Regions from separate parts of the Homo sapiens genome. Here region 2 is linked to region 1. Evidence: fine-mapped expression QTL. A gene starts in region 1. The other region holds a variant in brackets. All regions are shown on one strand. Distances are between the middles of the regions.

Region 1 (2,901 bases):
ATACACACACTCATACACAACATACATACACACAACATACACACAACATACACACACTCACATACACAACATACACTCGCACAACATACACACATGCACAAGATACACACACAACACACAACATACACTCACACACAAGATACACACAACATATACTCACACAACATACACACACAACACACTCTCACACACAACATACCCTCTCACATACACGACATACACACACACAACATATGCACGCTCTCGCGCACATATACACACACACAACATTCACTCACACACACACACAGAGTCCCAGCTGAATCTGCATTCCTCATATGCACATACGTGCACACGCACATACGAGGCACATGTGTTCTTGGGTTGGGAGGAGAAGGGCAGGCAGTTATCTTCCAGATCTCCCCACACCTCTGGCACATGCCTTTCCTGGGGTCCTGGGGTAGACAGGAAGGTGAGGTGAGGGAACAAGCGGGGGTGTCGGGCCCTCCTCAGTCCCTGTTCACAGAGTGGGTGCGGCAGAGACCTCAAAGGGACAGAGCAATCATGAGCTGAGACAGAGGGGGAGCAAAGCCGCAGAAACTGCACACTTGCCTTTCAAAAATGGATTTCCTCTCCTGGGATTCAGCCTGCGAGTGCCTGGCCCCTCACCTTGATGGAAAGGATGGTCATTTTCCTCCGAGCTCAGCTGCTGGATATCTTGAAAGTCCTTGGCCATGATGGGGCCCGGGCTGGAGCTGGAGCTGGAGCTGGGCTGGGCTGGGCTGAGGTTGCTCTGAGGGCTGGGGCTGGGGCAGAGGTGCAGATTCACGTGGAGGTTGATGGTGGGATGGAACGCAGGGTCGGAGGGGTTCGGGGTGGTGGCCTGGGTAGGATCTGAGGTTGGCAGGGCGTTTGGGATGAGGTTTGAAATCCCGCTGGGTCCTTTCCCTTCTCAGGAGACCGCTTGGGCCTTGACCTGGCCAGGAGACCCCTCCCCACGCTCATGGACCCGACCACCCACAGCTTCCCATGGGGTCCTCCCCATCCCTGAACCAAGGCCTCCTTGTTCCCAAGCATCCTCGTCCCAGTTGCCTCCCCAGCCTCAGTTACCTGTGAAAGGTGTGGAGAGCGGACACCTGGCTCCCGCAGGCAACCCTGGCCTTGGCCAAGGAGGGGTTAAAGCCAGGAGAACTGGGGCAGGTGGAGCTCACAGGGGAGAGGAGAGTGGAGGAGGGGCTGGTCCGGGCAAGGCCTGCACTGGAGGGTCTGAGTGTCCAAGCTCTAACCTGGCACCTCCTGGCCTGGGACTTTGGACAGTAAACAGAAGAGGAAACAGAGCTGTAACTCATTTGTGGGGTGGGGGCAGGGGACGGGGCTATCTCTGTTCTTATTCCCAGAGAGGGGGGTCCCCTGGGCTGCGCTCAACTCCACACGCCACTCACCCCACTCATTGCACCATTTGGAAGGGGTGCCAGGCCAGGAGGGGCTGGGGTGCAGTTTGCCGTTTCCCTCTCTCCCTCCCCCTCTCACTTCCTGCCTCCGAATTTACCAGAACTGTGGGTGTCTCCAAATATCCCTGACCAGGATCACAGCGACCAGTTCTCTACTCTTGCCCAATCCGGCATCTGAACCACAGACCCCAGCTTCCTGTGGGCTCGGCCACCAGACTCTCAGCTCTGGCCCAACTCGCTTCACTCTCCTGGAGAGTAAAGCCTCTCAAATCCAGAAGCTTCAGCAGGAGGAGGAAGGGGCTTTGCAGAAAAACAGCTCTCCTCGCAGGAGGAATCCAACCTCAGAGAGCCCCGTCCGGCCCAGACCCTGCCCCAGCCCAGGCAACACAAACACTGTCCTCAGGCCCAGCCACTGCCCTAAATTCTCCAAGGTGTTTCTTCATTTATCACAGCACAACACCCCCACGAGGCAGGACTTCTGTTACTCCCATTTCACAGGGTTCGGAAGCGGAGCCTCGGAGAGATGAGGCAACTTGCTCTAGGTGGTGGCCCAGGTGAGTAGAGAAACTGGCAAAGCAAAATGGAGTAAAGAGGGGAAAATAACATCATAACAAAAGGTCTGGCCGGGCACGGTGGCTCACGCCTGTAATCCCAGCATTTTGGGAAGCCGACGTGGGTGGATCACCTGAGGTCAGGAGTTCGAGACCAGCCTGGCCAACATGGTGAAACTCTGTCTCTACTAAAATACAAAAATTAGCCGGGCGTGGTGGCAGGGGCCTGTAATCCCAGCTACTCAGGACGCTGAGGCAGGAGAATCGATTGAACCTGGGAGGCGGAGGTTGCATTAGCCAAGATTGCGCCATTGCACTCCAGCCTGGGCAACAAGAGAGAAACTCCATCTCAAAGAAAAAAAAAAGAAAGAAAGAAAAAGAAAAGAAAAGGTCTTCATGGTCCTACGAGGAAGACTGGCTTCCATGAAGCAAGGAACGTGGCTGACTGTCTACACTTGCGCTAACAATAGCTCGGGAAAGAAAACACAGTTTTTGTGCATGATTTTCTGACCCTCACCAAACTTGGGCGGATGGCTACGGGCAGGGTTTCTTATAAAGCTGCTCGTTTCCCCGGGTGCCGAAAAGGAATTCAAACAGAGGCCTTTTCTGTTCTTGTAACTTGCTGACCCACATGGGAAGTAGCCACCCCCCCAGTACCCTGACATTCCCACCCAGCCACCAGGCAGCAGCAGCCGCTGGGCTCTCTGACTGCAGCCCACAGCGAGAGACGAATTTCATGCTGTGATCCAGAACATACACACAAGCACCCGCACACACAGGTGCATTTGTATGTGTTACTTTCTCCTGGATCCCCAGTGCCTGCCACACAGTAGCTGCTCAACAAGTATCTACTGAGTGAGTGAGTGAATAGAATAATGCGTTTGGAAATACACGGTTGACACTAAAGTTTGATGGGACAA
Region 2 (2,901 bases), 98 kb after region 1:
ATGCTACTGGGACATATCTGCACCCCCAATATATTAGGGCTTAAAACAAGTAAAAGGCCTGGGGAATGGGGGACACGGACGGAGTCGCTGTTGTTCCTTCCCCTTTGGCCCCCTCCTCACCAGAGCCCCAGTTGCACAGAATGACCTGGAACTGAGGCTTGCACCCCCAAAACATAGGGGTGTGAGTCAAAGTGAATGATAAGAGGGGCGACCCACGGCGCCTGTCCACGAGAAGTTGCAACCCAGAGACCCCGCACCAAGCAGAAGGAAGAGCGACAGCGCTTGAAGCTTGCACCCTGATATTTGCGGGGGTCCGGGAAGGGGGAGCGGGCCGGAGCCCATACCGCGGCACGTACCACGCAGAGACACATGGAGGCGAATCTGTTCCGAGCCGACATGGAGAAGGGGAGGGGGACTGAGGGAAGGGGGTAGGTGGGATATCAAGGGTCCCGGGGGTTGGGGGAGGGGGAGGGGCAGAGGGGCGGGGGCTGCGGCGGCCGCGGCAACTGGAGGCTGCGGCGGGGGGGGGGGGGGGGTGACGGCGCCTGCGCAGTAAGGAAGAGCGTCACGTTGGGAGAGAGGGGTGAGGGGAGACCCTCTTAGCCACCAACTTCCCTGGTTCACGCTGTTTCTCTGTGAACTTCACTTTCCACAGTATACTTCTATTCCGACCCCTCTACAATTAAAGACAGACTTAAATTTACCAGTTTATCTCTCTAGTTCTCAGGGACCCCTTATTCCATCCCATCTAATCCCCCAACCCCAACATCGCGAGACCCCAAACCATTCCAAAACCTCACTGGACATCTCGTCACTACTGGCCTCCCAGAGTCCAGGGAAACAAACAGCACTTCTCTCACAAGAACCCCCAAGGGATCTACACTGCCTCTCCCACCAAACCCCCGCAAGATTGGTGCTGTGGATAGCATCTCCTCAGATTCCAAGGCATCTCCTACTCTAACCAGCATAGTTCTCCCCTGCAGTCCAGCCCCACCTGATAGGCAGCCCATGTTTCTTCAAGAGTTTAAGGAACCACAGAGCCTTGTTGGCCCCCCAAATTAATATATGCTAAATCATCCCTTTCTATATCACATCTATCTCCCAATCCACTAACAGGGATGTTGCAATTAGTGCAAATATTACTCTTGCTCTAATATAAACATCCAAATAACAAGTCCTCTAATTTGTTGGGGATCCCCTGTCCAAACCCCCGAATCTAATAAGATACTCATGACTTCCTAATATGCCAGTCTCCAAATCCACACCAGAACCCAATTTCAGGAAATATTTAATCTACTTTAAAGCAGACCCTCCAAATTAAATAGCAATCTCGTCAATTTTTTCCAAAACTCTTATAAAAAGAAATGTAGACGGGAAGATCGCTGGAGGCCAGGTGCCCAACACCAGCTTGGGCAACATAGTGAGATCCCATCTCTAAAAAAAAAAATTTTGGCCTGGCACGGTGGCTCACACCTGTAATCCCAGCACTTTGGGAGGCCGAGGCGGTTGGATCATGAGGTCAGGCGTTCCAGACCAGCCTGGCCAAGATGGTGAAACCCCATCTCTACTAAAACTACAAAAATTAGCCGGGCGCGGTGGCAGGCGCCTGTAATCCTAGCTACTAGGGAGGCTGAGGCAGGAGGATGGCTTGAATCTGGGCAGCAGAGATTGCAGTGAGCCGAGATCGTGCCACTGCACTCTAGCCTAGGCGACAGAGTGAGACTCGGTCTCAAAAATTAATAATTAATTAATTAAAAGTATTTTCCTTTTCCTTTTCTTTTCTTTCTTTC[TTTC/T]TTTTTTTTTTTTTTTTTTTTGAGACAGATTCTCGCTCTGTTGCTCATGCTGGAGTGCAATGGCGCGATCTCGGCTTACTGCAACATCCGGCTCCCGGGTTCGAGTGATTCTCCTACCTCAACCTCCCGGATATCTGGCATTACAGGCGCCCGCCACTACGCCCGGCTAATTTTTTTGTATTTTTAGTAGAGACGGGGTATCGCCATGTTGGCCAGGCTGGTCTCGAACTCGTGACCTCACATGATCCGCGCGCCTCGGGCTCCCAAAGTGCTGGGATTACAGGTGTGAGCCACCGCACCCGGCACCTCCTCTCCTTTTCTTTACCCCTGAGGTTCATAGATTACACCCTTTTCTGTCTGCCCAGAACATCCCCTCCACGATTCTGAATTCCAACTTTGTCGGAAGATTGCTCCCAAATATATCTTCTCCACACTCAGGCCTCAAAAAATACACACCAAAGATACGGCCGGCAATCTGCAATGACCCACAAATCGTCCAGAACACTCCCAACCGCCTCCTTCAGGTCTCTTCAGAGATTTCCATTTTCTCCCAAACAACTTAACCTGAAAGCCTCTCTTCCAAATATTCTCCCATTGAACGCCCACCCTTCCAGCTCTTAAAACCCAGTGAGGGGTCTCCTCAAATCGGCTGACTTCTATAAAATGCCCATACATGGTAGAAATGACGACTTCCCTAGAATCTCACCCAAGCGAGATTGACCCCGTTGATCGGCATCTGTTACATGCGCCCCCAAGATGACCCCCAATGTCCTAGTTTCATATCTGGTAGGAAGGCTTGGATCACCAGAGGATCCAAGGAGTCAGTGCGGAAGGGGCTGGACTCAAATTTCCTTCTAGAATAGAAAACCTGCAGGCCCTGCTTATCCACCAGTGGGCGCCATGGCCCATAAAGACCCTTCCCCATCCCCCATTTCCCTTTTCCCTCCATTTTCCGTTTCTCTGTTGCCTGGCAACGCAGCAATCAAGGACTTTGCCGTCGCCTAGCAACCGTCTCCTGGGAACACAGAGCTGAGGTAGGAGGGGTGCTCTGATGAAATCTGAACAGACCTCCATCTTAGGAAAATTGAGACGTCAGACTTCCCAACCC

Evidence for each region. PIP is the estimated chance that this variant, and not a neighbour inherited with it, causes the effect.
Region 2: its variant is the best candidate, but not a certain one, in a credible set for the expression of ASGR2 in monocytes (BLUEPRINT, PIP 0.89).

What each region holds. Positions count from the first base shown.
Region 1 is chr17:7,113,526-7,116,426 of GRCh38, forward strand. ASGR2 (asialoglycoprotein receptor 2) reads right to left here and starts at 1,297. Exons shown (of 9, transcript NM_001201352.2): 1 at 1,090-1,297; 2 at 592-785. The coding sequence starts at 715. RefSeq lists an enhancer at 1,449-2,235.
Region 2 is chr17:7,211,302-7,214,202 of GRCh38, forward strand. The region is part of intron 1 of DLG4 (discs large MAGUK scaffold protein 4); the gene reads right to left. Among named protein-coding and RNA genes, the nearest start is that of DLG4, 4.9 kb to the right of the region's middle. RefSeq lists enhancers at 1-242, 243-757. The variant TTTC/T (reference allele first, on the strand shown) is at 1,791.